2 linked regions of the Homo sapiens genome follow. The protein of the gene in region 2 interacts with the protein of the main gene of each other region in a biochemical or structural test. Each region holds a gene or a part of one and is shown on either strand. Other genes may lie near its edges.

Evidence for each region. Proteins that work in one complex are often made in the same cells at the same time.
Region 1: the proteins of RET (region 2) and TLN1 interact in a surface display test, tested with the Homo sapiens proteins (2 studies listed by BioGRID and IntAct, with this or other methods).

The regions. Positions count from the first base shown.
Region 1 is NC_000009.12:35,708,175-35,715,200, forward strand, and holds part of TLN1 (talin-1), read right to left. Parts: intron 7,014-7,026; coding exon 6,885-7,013; intron 6,703-6,884; coding exon 6,586-6,702; intron 6,514-6,585; coding exon 6,400-6,513; intron 6,200-6,399; coding exon 6,065-6,199; intron 5,908-6,064; coding exon 5,779-5,907; intron 5,125-5,778; coding exon 5,022-5,124; intron 4,870-5,021; coding exon 4,661-4,869; intron 3,951-4,660; coding exon 3,831-3,950; intron 3,619-3,830; coding exon 3,421-3,618; intron 3,221-3,420; coding exon 3,081-3,220; intron 2,909-3,080; coding exon 2,815-2,908; intron 2,713-2,814; coding exon 2,623-2,712; intron 2,568-2,622; exon of another isoform or gene 2,510-2,567; coding exon 2,387-2,509; intron 311-2,386; coding exon 167-310; intron 1-166. UniProt on the Homo sapiens protein: High molecular weight cytoskeletal protein concentrated at regions of cell-matrix and cell-cell contacts. Involved in connections of major cytoskeletal structures to the plasma membrane.
Region 2 is NC_000010.11:43,080,057-43,087,082, forward strand, and holds part of RET (proto-oncogene tyrosine-protein kinase receptor Ret isoform a precursor), read left to right. Parts: intron 1-7,026. UniProt on the Homo sapiens protein: Receptor tyrosine-protein kinase involved in numerous cellular mechanisms including cell proliferation, neuronal navigation, cell migration, and cell differentiation in response to glia cell line-derived growth family factors (GDNF, NRTN, ARTN, PSPN and GDF15).

The sequences.
Region 1 (7,026 bases), on a different chromosome or scaffold from region 2:
TGATGAGACCCATGGCAGAAAAAGACAGTTACCCAAAAAGAAGCTGTGTGTGCAAGGTCAGAGATGGGTCCCTGCCCTCTTTCCCACATGCCTCACCTCCCTCTACTCCACGGGGTCGGTCTGCCCTTTCCCAGACTCGCCTGTGGTCCCTGTTCCCTTGAGTTACCTGGGCCTGGGTACAGCCAGGCTCTCCCAAACTCTGGCAGGCCATCTGAATTGCCTGGTTTGCACGGGCAAACTGTGTGGGCTCCACTAGCCCTTGCTGTCCAGCTTGGCTATTGGGGTCAGAGACACCAACCAGATATGCAGCCTGGGAAGAGAAAAGGGGGTGGGGGTGAGGAATAAAGATTGCAGGTGGGAAATGAATAGTGATAGTAGGGACAAAAGAGAGCAGAGGTAAGTTTAGAGAATAGGGCTTATTTTCCAGAGTTCTCCATGAGTGGAGATACATTAGCAAACAATGGTTACACTATAAAGAAGAAAAAAAATACTCTCCTGTTTTCATTAAGTATATTCAAGCATTTCAGAAGATTAAAAAAGTTAATAAAAAGGAAAACTACATAGCAAGGGTTTTTATCCAATCTCTATTTAGATATGTTTGTGTATGTTGGGTCTTAGAGTGAAAAGTATGGCTTACTGTAAGTAGCAGTAAAACGTTTGAGAGCCATATATAAATACACACCTTTGTGCACACAAGCAAAGCCTCTTTTAAAGACAGTTCAAAACTGATGAAGGTTATTAGGCTAATTCACATTTATAGCACCTCCATGCGTCAGATATTTGGAAAGGAAGGGAGGGGTTAAAAAGCCATTTTTATGATGGAAAGAACATCCTAATGTTTGATTCATACTTCAATCAATACACAGTAGCTTTGCTTTTTCCTCTATGCATTTTCAGAAGGTGGGGGGAAAAAAACCAAACAAACAACAAAGAGGTTTAGTGAAACCCTGTCTCTACTAAAAATACAAAAATCAGACGGGTGTGGTGGCAGGCGCCTGTAGTCCCAGCTACTCGGGAGGCTGAGGTAGGAGAATCACTTGAACCCGGGAGGCGGAGGTTGCAGTGAGCCGAGATTATGCCTCTGCACTCCAGCCTGGCGACAGAGCGAGACTCCGTCTCAAAAAACAAACAAACAAAAAACCAAAAAAACAAAAAAACAAAATCAAACAAGCCATCTAGAGCAAGGCGCCTATTCTGACAGGGCACAGGGAGGTGGTGGAGATGGAGGGCTAGGATGGTAGGCTTTCAGGGAAAATAGTCTGAAGTGAACTCTTATGATGCCAGTTTGTTTTAAGGATTCATATACTAAAGCAAAATACTTTACAGCTAATAGGTAGTTTTATACTTGATAATGTGGGAAAAGGCAAAGTTAAGTGATAACTCAAGTAACTGGAAATTTTGTCACTAGTACTATTTTAAGAAAGTAGTGATTGGCCGGGCGCGGTGGCTCACGCCTGTAATCCCAGCACTTTGGGAGGTCGAGACGGGCGGATCACGAGGTCAGGAGATCGAGACCATCCTGGCTAACACGGTGAAACCCCGTCTCTACTAAAAATACAAAAATTAGCCGGGCATGGTGGCGCGCGCCTGTAGTCCCAGCTACACGGGAGGCTGAGGCAGGAGAATGGCGTGAACCCGGGAGGCGGAGCTTGCAGTGAGTCTAGATCGCGCCACTGCACTCCAGCCTGGGCGACAGAGCGAAACTCGGTCTCAAAAAAAAAAAAAAAAAAAAAAAAAAAAGAAAGTAGTGATTACAGGCCAGGCGCGGTGGCTCACGCCTGTAATTCCAGCACTTTGGGAGGCCGAGGCAGGTGGATCACGAGTCAGGATATCGAGACCATCCTGGCTAACATGGTGAAACCCTGTCTTTACTAAAAAAAAAAAAAAAAATACAAAAAATTAGCCGGGTGTGGTGGTGAGCGCCTGTAGTCCCAGCTACTTGGAAGGCTGAGGCAGGAGACTAGCGTGAACCCGGGAGGCGGAGCTTGCAGTGAGCCTAGATCACGCCATTGCACTTCAGCCTGGGCGACAGAGCGAAACGCTGTCTCAAAAAAAAAAAAAAAAAAAAAGAAAGTAGTAATAACATGAAAAAATAGTTTGTATAAGCTAATTAGTATATTTTGAGAAAGCCAGCTGGAAAAGGCCTCACGGTTGGGCAGTGTAATCCTAACCAAAGTACCAGGGTTCAGGAATTACAGAAATCAGAACTGCTGGTGTTCAGTAATTGCTGACAAGTGTCTCCACTTCAGGAGGAGGACAACCCAGATTCCATAGAGTTGGCTTTGCAAACATAAACTTCTTGATTTATCTACAGGTATGTCAGGCTGAGAGAAAATGGGGTAAAGAAAGTAGGGGCCATTCAAAGAACCCATCTCAGGAAAATAACCTGTGCAGCTGCCTCGGTGAAGCCACAAAGTGCCTTTGAGGCTGTGGAAATGGCATCTCCAAACTCTGGCAGGTTTCCGTTCTTGGCATTTTGGGAGATGCCAGTCATGGCCTCGCCCAGCACCTGAGGAACAGAGGACATCAGGGGAGTCAGAGCATGTCCTCAGAACCCCAGGGCAGCATCTGGTTAGCTCCATCCTACTGCCCTCTCTCCTCCGAGTTCCTGGCTGTGCTGACCTTTGAGTTCTCCATTACACTGTCCAGGCAACCAAAGTAGGACATGTCATTGATGGGCTGGACTGGGTTCTCCAGGAGTTCCCGGACCGTCTGTGTAGGGGGAGGGCAAAGTGAGATCCAAGACACCTCCCTCAGGCCCAAAACCAGAACACTTCCCTCAACCTCAATGCCATCAGCCTGCCATGTGTCTACCTCCAATTCCCGCAGGGCGTTATCACACTCCTTCTGGCCGGGTGCCTGCTGGGTGCACATAGTGATGAGCTGATTGATGCTGTCAGTTACTGCCCTGGGAGTGACAGAAAGTTGAGTGAAAAGGTGAATAGGTCATCATTCCTGGGTCCTATGTAAGTATTTATCTTTTGCCTATAACCATTCCTAAGCCAAGAAGCTCTCATGAACTGCCTGCTCCCCAGTCTCTCTCACACAGTCCAGGGCTGGGCTTCTCAGCAACTACTTACCTGGCAGCTGCAGCCAGCTGACTCTTGAGGTTAGGGGCAGCAGGGTCCGTGGACAGGGCCTTGGCAGCCAGAAGAAGTTTGCTTGAAGACATGGAGATGCCCTTCAAGTTGGACACAACTTGGGCTCGGTCCTCCTGGCTCTGTTGAAGGTGACAAGGTCAATGCATTGTCCTGTCCTTTCTTATCTGTCTCTAAAAGGGATCTTCTTTCCCAGACACTCAAGTAGTGCTAGAGACTGGGGAGGGAAGGGAGCCAGGAGCAAGTCAGGACTGGTCACTCAACTGCCTCCTATCTAACCCTTAGTGGGAACCATTCAACCAGACCCTCTGCCTCTTCATACCGGAGCCTGGCCTGCCATCTCCACACCAGCTTCCAGGAAGGTGCTGAAGTCCTGTCCAAATCGGCCTGAGGCTCGAGCCAGGTCCTGAGGGGTTCCCCGAGAGGCCTGCACCAGTTCTGTGGCTGCCTGATTCAGCCCAGCAGCAGCTTCATTCAACCGGCTCTGAGCTTCTTGAAATGTCCCAGTGCTAGGAGGAAGCTGCAAGGTGAGAGGGGAAGTCAGACAGAAGAGTGGGGAATGATGCAGGGAGAAGTCTGGTAAAGGAGGGCTGAAAAGGTGGGCACATAGCCTGGGAGTAATGAAAGGGGACAGATCTGGGAAGTCAGGGTCAAAGGACAACCGAGAGGGAGGAAGGAGAGGCCTGGCATTCTTTGACTCCTACGTTCCCCCACCCCCTACCGTCCTCCTACCGAGTCACTCAGGAGTCGCTTGCTGGCATCTCCAACTGCCCTCAGGGCATTATCCACATCGCGCTGGCCAGGTAGGCAGCTGACACAGCGGTTCAGAGCCTGGGTCACTGCTTTAGCCACCTGGGGTGAGAAAGGAGACAGGGTTGCCCAAGTGAAAAGAATTTGAGAGATCGCCTCCATTCACGCGACATGGGAGATGACTAGCTCTACTGCCTCTGAAAGTGAAAAAAGAAAGGGGGCGTTGTAGGTGAACAGGCTGAGGTTAGGGTTTCAAGTGACAGTAATTAAACTTCCCCAAACTTGGTGTTTAGCTCAGCCCATGACTGAATCCAACTGAGACACTTCTACAAGACCAAGAGGGCCGGGCACAGTGGCTCACGCCTGTAATCCCAGCACTATGGGAGGCCGAGGGGGGCAGATCACGAGGTCAAGAGATCGAGACCATCCTGGCCAACATGGTGAAGCCCTGTCTCTACTAAAACAAAATTCAAAAATTAGCTGGGTGTGGTGGCGCATGCCTGTAGTCCCAGCTACTAGGGAGTCTGAGGCAGGAGAATCACTTGAACCCAGGAGGCGGAGACTGCACTGAGCCGAAATTGCGCCATTGCACTCCAGCCTGGGCAGTAAGAGCAAAACTCTGTCTCAAAAAAAAAAAAAAAAAAAAGACTAAGAGAACATAAGGGTGGAATCCACAGAGGGGCTGTCAAGAGCAGACCCAAGAAGACATCACTCTGTGAGTGTGGACGAGGCTCAGAAGCTTTGGCCTCAATCAGGGTGGGCCTTATGAAGGAACCTGGGGGAGAGGGAGTGGCCCTTTCCCAGTATCTGACCTGGGCAAGCCGCTGCTGGCTCTCAGGGTCCCCTGGATGGCCAGCTGCCTTTTTCGCCTCCTCAATGAGGCTGCTGGCCTTGTCCAGCACATCACTGGCCGTATCAAGTACAATGGCCTGCACTGCAGGATCTGACGTCAGTGCAGCGACTCCCCTAGCGGCCTGGGCCAGTGACCGCAGCCCACCTGCCACATCCCGAGCTGCAATACCTTGGGAGATGAGGAGAAAGAGGGAAGGGAAGGTGCTTTCATTGCCAGGCCCTGATTCCAGTGGTTTCGTCTGTCAGTCCCATCCCTCATCCAGCTCCCATTTTCCTACCTCCCTCACAATATGCCCCATGCCTGGCTCTCTGCCCACATACCTGCATAATTCTCATTGCCCTGGGCAACCTCTCCCAGTAGCTGGGCGATGGCTGAGCTCACGGCTTTGGTGCTGTTGCCCAGGTCCTGGGTACACTTCTCCATCTAAGGATGAAGGGGGAAGAATTGGGCTTGAGAAAGGAGAAGGTGAGGAGAAGGAACCTGAGAAGGTACTTGGGGACAGGTGGCAATTTAAATAAATGTTTTGGGCTGGGTGCGATGGCTCCCACCTATAATCCTAGCACGTTGGGAGGCTGAGGCAGGTGGATCACCTGAGGTCAGGAGTTCAAGACCAGCCTGGGCAACATGGCGAAACCCCATCTCTACTAAAAATACAAAAATTAGCCAGGCGTGGTGGTGCATGCCTGTAATCCCAGCTACTCAGGAGGCTGAGGCAGGAGAATGGCTTGAACCCAGGAGGCAGAGGTTGCAGTGAGCTGAGATTGCACAACTGCACTACAGTTTAGGTGACAGAGCGAGACTCCATCAAGAAAGAAAAAGAAATAAAAGAACGGAAAAGAAAAGAAAAGAGAAAAGAAAAGAAAGAGGAGAGGAAAGGAAGAAAAGAAAGGAAGGAAGAAAGAAGGAAGGAGAGAGAAAGAGAAAGAAAAAAGGAAGGAAGAAGAAAGAAAAGAAAAATAAAAGAGAGAAAGAGAAAAAAGAAAAAGGAAGGAAGGAAAGGTTTTGAGCAGCTCTGGGGCACGGAGGTGAAGGAAGACTTTAGGATTTGAGTAAGAATGAGGTCTTAAACATACTTACTGTCTCCCCAGGTAAGGGTTTAAGCTTGCCATCTCGAGCTGCTGCCTTCACTTCCTGTAGATCTTTCTCTAGATTCTGTACCACACTCAGTGCAGAATCCATCTCCAAAGGTCCACATGCTTCCTGAGCCTATGATAAGAAAGGGGTTTTGGGTGTAGAAGGTCCTGCTGTGTCTCACCAATGCCTCTGATTACACAATTATCTGCGTATTGGGTTATTCTGCACAGATTTCCTCTCATCACAGGACTCCAGCCTCATCTTCCAAAGCCAGAACCAGCTTCCATACCTTCTGGGCAGCCGTCCGGAGTTCAGCCAGCGCGGTGCCCAGGTTCTTGGCACACTGACTCAGCTGCATGGCTGAAGCCTGGTCCTGAATCGTTGGCACTGAGGCCTTTGCAGCTGCCACCATCTTCCCACCTGGCTGTTGGGGAATAGGCAGGTGGATGAAGTGTGCCATCCTCCCTCTGGGCTTGGGTACAAGGACTGATGATGGTCAGGATGTAGGGAACACTGGGGCTTGGTATTGGGAAAGAGGCTCTTGGCAGAGATTCAAACTGTGGGAGATGGAAGCTTAGAAAGGTGGGAAGGTCAGGTCAGAGAAGTGCAGAGGGGGTGCCTTGCCTGCAGGAAGCTCTGGCTGGCAGCAATGAGGGCAAGCTGAGCGCTGGGGCTGTCAGGCTGGGCTTGGCTTCCTCGGACGCCCTGCACCAGCAGTGGAATCTGCTCTGCCACTGCCTGTAGGTGAAAATGTCATAAGAGACCCACAAGTCTCCCTCTTCCACTCCCACATCCTTCCTAGAGTCTTACCTTGCAGCTCTGCACCAGCAGGGGCTGGGGGCCGGCAGAGGCCTTGGGGGTAGAGGCTGCGTGCTGAGCTGCAGCGATGGTCTGTGTGGCTGAGGCTGCAGCCTGCTTGGCTGCATGCTGTGAAGACAAGAGTAGTCAGACCAAGCCCATGGATTCCCATGCCCAGCCCAGTCCCTGGCCTACCTTGCCCAGGTTATGCCTCAAGGACGTATTAACTTACTCTCCGCACCTCCCTTTCAGTTCATTCCTCCCACAGCACCCACACTCTCTCTTGCTCCTGGTGAAACTCCCAGCCTCACCTCCAGGCGCTGCACCAGCTTTTTCTTGATGGCATTCTGCGCAGCTGCATTGGTGGCCATGCGCAGCCCCTCAGCTGCCTCCCGCAGCCGCTGCTGCTGCTCCTCACTGTCAGGGTGGGCAGCTGCTCCCTGAGGGAGAGGT
Region 2 (7,026 bases):
AAATTGCCTTTCTTCTGCAGAATCACTTTAGGGACAGGCTGAGGAAATCACTGTTTCCTTGGTGGTGTGAAGAAAATGGGATGCGATCACCTAGCGGGGAGCTAATAGCCTTTTAGCCAGTGGAGGAGAAAACCAATTAAAAATTATGATATCTGTTAAAATGGAACCTGGGGTGCCAAGGGGAAGGGAAGGCCCGGAAGCTGCCATCTCCCCTGAGACCTTCCCCCTCTGCAGCCTGGCCGAAGACCCTCTAGGTCCCCTCGTCTTAACTGGATAAGGCTAATACCAGCAGTAGCACCCCATGGGGGCTCACAGTGCACTGCCCCTGTGCTGTGCCTACTCACTTCATCTTTTCCAACAAGTCTGCAAGGGTCATGGTCTTGGCCCATTTCACAGGTGAGGAAACAGGTTCTCATAGCCTATGGACTCGAACCGGTAGAGAGGATGCGGGAGCTCCCCAGCCCTGGCCCTCTGGCTTGCTCCAGCCCGTTCTCTGGGCCAGTGGTGTGGGTCCAGGGTGGGGCTAAGGAGGGCTTCCAGGGAGGTTGCCCTGAGCCTGCCCACCCACTGGTGAGTCCCCCCACCTCGGGCTCCAGGTGCCCTCAGGACATCCCAGCCCAGATCCCAGAGTAATGTGTGGCACCATGCACAGACGCTGAGATACTCTCTGGGTCTCGTCAGCTTTAGTTGATGTCTGGGAGTCCTATGGGTCTGGGGAGGAGCACCAGGCATGGCTGTGCCAGCAGAAGGGCCGACTGTGTGTGCTCTGTGGATGGCAGGAAGGCATCTTGCTGCCAGTGGCGGTGCAGATGTTCGGCTGGGACACCAGGCTGTGGCCCTTGCAGCCAACATATGCCTGAGGCCCTGGCATCGGATGGAAGCTACTGCTCTGAAGACAAGGGTGCAGGGATGGGGTTTGGGCATCAGGGATGGGGGTACAGCTGTGTTTCCTCATGCAGGACAGGGCCTTCCTCCTCATTTTTCCCATCCTCCAGGACAGCCTGGGAGAAGAAAGCCAGGGAATAGGGGCAAAGCAGGGTGCAGCCCCCCATGCTCCCTGCTGCCCTCCTCCCCTCCTGCAGAGGCACTTCCTTTCCACTTCAGGAGCCCCTCCCCCAGAAGTGGGCCCCCCCCATCCCCCCTTCCTTCTTTGGAGGCTGCTTCCTGGTGCCAGGTTATGCTCCCTCCCCGTTCTCTGCTGTGCCCTCTATCTCCCCACTCCTCTGCAATTATTTTTCAGCAGAGTGACTTAATAGTAACAATAACAGTAACAATAATAGTAACAACAGCAGGCTGGGAGCACTCCTGAGGGAGCCTCGGCTCCTGCCCTGCTGCTCTAGGGCTGGGGACTCTCCAGAGCTGTCTCATGGCAGGGAGAGACCGTAGTCAAGGAGACCCTGTGTAGGGACTTCCGCATGCGTGTGTGGCAAGGGGCGGGGACTGGGCAGTGACCACCAGGCAGGGAGCACACCTCAGTCATGGTCACAGAGAAGGTGATGATGGCACCAGGGCTGTCTCTCCGTGCCCGTCTGCACCTGGGCCTGCCAGAGCCGTCTTCTGTGCCCCATGGGGTAGGGGAGCACCCCATGGCCCCTGGGAGGCTGCCAGTCAGTGGGACTATGAGGTCAAATGGGGAGGTCCCTTGGGGTCCATGACCCAGGCACTGCACCCCTTGGGGCTGGAAGGGGAGAAGGCCCCAGGCCCACCAGAGCCCCTCTGGCTCCCCCACTAGAACAGCAGCCAGGGCCGGCTCAGGGATTGAGGCGAAGCCTTGGTGCTTGATTCTTTGTCCCCTGAGGCAGGCTGTACCTCTCATAGGAGAACTTTGGAGGACGGGCCTTCTCCTGACCAAGGCTCTGGGACACTTGGCAGCCCCTGAGGTCCTGCTTTACCTCTCTGCTTTCTCCCCCCTTCTCTGAGCTCTGGGGCCAGGCCTGGGCACTTGGATTGGCGCTGAGACAATGAGGCCTGAACCTCCATGGAGCTCTGGTCCCGCAGCTGTGTGATCATGGGGGCCTCAGGGACCCCGCTCCCCTCCATTCCCCAAGCCTAGAGGCCATGAAGCCTGTGGGTCCCTGAACTGTCCACCCTGAGACTGCAGGCAGGGCAGGGCTGGGCAAGAGCAGGCAGCAAGCTGTCCTTGTTCCCACAGCTCCTCCTGGCTGGGCTCTTGGCCCCTGAAAAGCCTGGGGCAGGGAGATGGTGCCAGCAGGACCTTAAGGACAGCAGTTCAGGTCGCACCTGGCCCTGGAGGGAGCAGGTGGCCAGCTCCAAGCAAACACCTCTGTTTGCTTTTGCCTCAAGGAGTGGCTCCACAAAGTGTAGCAGCCCAGGCACCACCACAGAAAGGTCACCGCTGCACCTGGACAGGTGTGCGCCTACCTGGTGGACCAGCGGGCATAGGCTTTCCTCCCTGATATCAGGGATACCTGGAGGGCCTGGTGCTGGGGCTCTGTGCTCAGGGGAGAACCTGTGGCCCTACAGCCCCAGGTTCTAGACCCCCTCCCAGATTCGGGTGCTGCAGCTGCGCTTCCACTCCTGGCCCTTGCTCCTCTGTGCTGCTGCTCTCCATGCCCTGCAGGAGCCAGGGTTCCAAGGAAGCACCTGAGGGGCAGTGTGGCCCCAGGGCAGGAGCAGGACAGTGGCCACCAAGCTGTTTCCAGTTCCCTTGTGTGCCTGTGACTCCAGAGGATTCTCGCCCTTGTGTTCCTGAGAGGGAAAAAGGAAACATGTATTTCCTAGAATTTAAGTAATGACTGGGGAGATGTGTGCTCTGGGTGCCGGGACGAGGGTGGGTGAGCTGGAGGTGCAGCATGAGCTGGTGCAGTTCTGGAGGGAGGGAGAGGGCTCATTGGGTTTCTTCCTCATACTACTTGGCAGTGCAACTGGCACAGACCCGGCAGCTGTTGCTGGGCTAGGGGCCAGGGGCTTCCTCTTGCTCTGTTCCCCTTCCTGCTCCACCACCATTGCCTGTAGGGCGTCTGCCAGCCCCAGGAAGCCTAACACTTAGCCCAAGTGGGGCTCTGGGCCTGGCCCTCCTCACCCAGGGAAACAACGGGGCTCATGGGCGCTTGGTGACATGGGCACATTGCTCTGCCATCGTAAGGGGCCAGCCTGGCTATGGGACCCAGCACCGGTGGGCAGCCCACAGGTTGTCTCTGCAGGAGACTCCTCTGGCAGGTCACATACAGGATGCCCCACAGCACCTTGAAAACTCGTGACCCGGGAAAGCCTCAAATTGTCTTTGCTCCCCTAGCCTCCCCACCACCTGTATATGCAGGGGCATGTGAGACTGTACTTGGTGACAGGAATGCCCCCCAGTCTCAGGGGCTTAACGCCATCTACTATGTCCTTCTTGTGGCATAGCCTGGCATGGCCCTTACCCACTGGGTGGCCACACCTCCCAGCCCTTGTGCCTGGCTATGTGCACAGGAGGGCACAGAGCTTCAAGAAGCCTGAGGCTTAAGGAGCTTTGAGGCCTGGGAGGGGGCCACCGTCACTTTCCCTGTGTTCCGTGGGATCCTGTCACATGGTCGTTCTCACCCCAGGAGGCTTCAAGTACAGAGGACGCGGGGATGGGGGCACGCAGGGGTGTACCTGCACACACTTCTGCCTACCAGCTCTCCATCCCTTGTCCTGGTCCACATAGCAGGGGCTCCTGGCGGGCCCAGCAGCTGAGGGGGACAGAGGGGGAAACAGGGTAGCAAATAATTATGGTTTACTCTTTTTTAATTGTGAAATTTGTGTAACATAAGTTTAACCATTTATAAGTGAACCATTTGGTGGCATTTAGCACATTTACAGCATTGAACAGGCATTGCCTTAGTTCCAAAAAATTTGCATCACCCCAAAAGGAAACCCCATACCCATTAAACAGCTGCTTCCTGTCCCCGGGCAACCCCCAGCCTGCGTTCTGTCTCTGCGGCTTGGCCTGTCCTGGAACATTTCATCTGCATGGACTGTTGTCTGGCTTCACTCAGCATAAGGTCTTCAGGGTTCCTCTAGGCTGTGGCACACATCAGCCCCTTCCTGTGAGGGGTAAATAGTGTGCCGTCACCCATTCATCTGGGGATGGACACGTGGGTGCTTTCCACCTTTTGGCAGTTATGAAAAATGCTGCCAGGGACATTCCTGTTATAAATACCTGAGTTCGTGCTTTCAGTTCTTTTGGGTACATACCTGGACATGAAATCGCTAGGTAATTCTGTTTTATATTTTGTGGAGCCGCCAAACTGTTTTCCACAGTGGTTGAATTGTGTTACATTCCCAAGGGTTACAATCTATCCACATTCTCACCACCACGCATTATTCTCTGTTATTCTCTGGTTCATGTCTCACTCTGGCCGTGCAGCCAGTGCACAGTGCTAGCTCGTTGTGGCTTTGGTTTGCCTTTCCCCGGTGATGGCGTGCTGGGCATCTTTTCCTGTGCATGCTGGCCAGTTGCATGTCTCTTTGGAGAAGCATCTCTTCGAGCCCTCTGCCTGTTGTCTAACTAGATGGCTGTCTTGCCATACAGCTGACTTTGCTGTTGCATCTGCATCAAGAGCTGCAGAGAAGCAGCTTTATCCAGGGCCGTCACTGTCAGTGATTGAGCCCCAGGTCCCTTGTGAGGAGAGTGTGGATTCGTCTGATTCCTCACATGGGCATTGAATCACCACTGCCCTCGAGGACCTTGAGGACATTCTCGGAAGACCTGGACTCTGAGGCCACGTTGAGCACCAACATCTGGAAACCATGGTGTCACTGCTTGTGCATAAGAAGGGGCCTCTCAGGAACCGCCCTGTGAAGGATGGAGGAAGGGGAAGGTGCAAGGAGCCAGCAGACCCCCACCCCACTGACAAGACGAGACTCAGCAGCAGGGGAACCAGGGCCGCCCTCTCTCGCTCATCCTGAACCCTGACTCTAAAAATAACCAGGCTGATAATCGGATCCGCTGTAAGTTGATTATCATCATTGCCGTGGTGTGATGTCATGCTGCCAGGCCCTGGGGCAGTTTTCTCAGGACAGCGGTGGATGCACCTAGGCAGCTCTGGAGGCCAGCATGGAGCTGGGGGGCCCTGAACCGAGGGTGGCAGGCAGCCTCTGTGGGCTCCTGCAAATCTGCTTGGTGGGGGTGGAACACTGGCATCCATAGGCAGGCACTCTGTGCTCCCAAGGAGGAGTTCCTGTCCCCATTCGCAGCTAGGGACAGAGCCAGGGAAGCCAAGTGCCCAGCCCTGGCAAACAGCGGGGAAGCACAGGGGCATGGGCTGGGCCGCTCTGCCCTGCGTTTCTGCTCCTTCCTGCTGCTGAACTCTCTCCTTTCTGCTGCTGAACTCTCTCCTTTGGACTAGGCCTTTGTCTTCTTGCCTCATCGTCAGTGGCCTGGGAGGACACTTGCAGTCTTAATCCTGTTTTGGCCCCATGTCCCTCACCCCCCAGGGGCCACCTAGGCCAGAGCCTGTCCTGATTTCCATCTCGGCCACCGTCTGCCCCTCGGCCCCTGGTCAGGAGCTCATTCTGTGGATACTCCTGCATAGACATCACGTGGACTCAAAGGGCATGAGGACCTCGGCTGAGAGGAGCTTACACATCAGTGCAAACCTCTCATTTTACACAGGGAGAAATCGAGGCCCTGAGGGAGGCGTGAGTTGTCACACATGGGGGTAGTGTCAGATGAAGACTTGGCACCACTTCCCTGGGCATCCCCTTCCCTGCATGGCATCCCCAGCCTTGGGTTTGGATTCTTCTTCACCCTTGATGTTGAGGTCTTTGCTCCCAGGACCTGGATAACAGCATCCAGATGCAGGTGGTGCCCCCGCATCGGGCTGCCTGGCTGTGACCTGGGGCATCAGGATTGTCAGCTTGTCTGGCCCCAGGTCTGTGCTGGGCTGAAACCTACTGTCTCAGAGGCTCCTGGCTCTCTCCCTCTGCTCTCCACTGCTCTTAAGAGCAGACCCTCAAGCCTTTTTTGTGTCCTCTCTCCAGGGAGAGCCCAGCTTCTACTCTGCAGCCCAATGCAGAAGGGGTGGTAGCTCACGGTGCCTCGGCTTCTCTGCATGCCTGTCACTGAACAGAGAAGCCCAGGCCAGACTGCAGCTTAATTCCTAGCCTCTGTGTGGCCTCCAGCAGGGTACCTAAGCTAGTGCTGCCTCATTTTCCTCCTGTGTGAGATGGGAATCCTCATGGTCCCTACCTCTGACAGTTGTTTTGATGCAGTGGGTGATGCAGATGAAGCGCCCGGAGCAGACCTGCTCATGAGGAGCACACCGTGGATTCCTACTGGTTAATGTTGAACAGGGATGAGAAGGGGCTGGGGTAGGGCGAAAATGGGCAAGACCATCTCAGCTTGAGGAACATGAGCTGACAGATTGACTTAAATTTGCACATGGACATGATCTGAGTCACTGCCTTGCTGAGTGCATGGGGACAGTTGCCCAGGCCAGAGGCACCAGGGTCAAAGCCAGTGGTGATGCCCTGGCCCCGTTGCCCCAGGCCAGGGCCAGTGAACAATGTAATCAGCTGGGGCAGACTCTACAGCCCTGCAGCCAAGGGGGCCAGTGACCCTTACATGGTCATCCACAGGCCACTTGGGTGGCCAGTCCTGTTCAGCCAGGCCTTGCCCTAGGAAAGAAATTAATTATAACCTAATTGGCAGTTTCCTTTGCATAGAAGCCGGAAGCAACTGCCAGTGAGGCTGGTGATTAACTCTGCAGCAGCTGGGAAATTGCAGTTGGGCAGGAGCGCCCATCATCCTGGCCAGGCCGCTGCAGCTGGTCTGGGTATGGAAGTGTGGGTGGTGGCCATCGTGCAGCTTAGGGCCTGGGCCCCTCAGAGCAGAAGGCTGGGTCTGTGTGCAGAAGGTAGCCTTGGGCTGCCAGGTCCCCCAGTGCCCAGTTGCGGACCTCCTTCTCCCAAACCTCAGCCATGCCTGGACCCCTTCCCCACTCACGGCAGAAGGCTGCATGGCTTTTAGGGGTGTCAGGAGGCTCATGTCCTGGTTGCAGTTCTACCATGGGTGTGCAGCGGGAATTCTGGGCTTCTGTT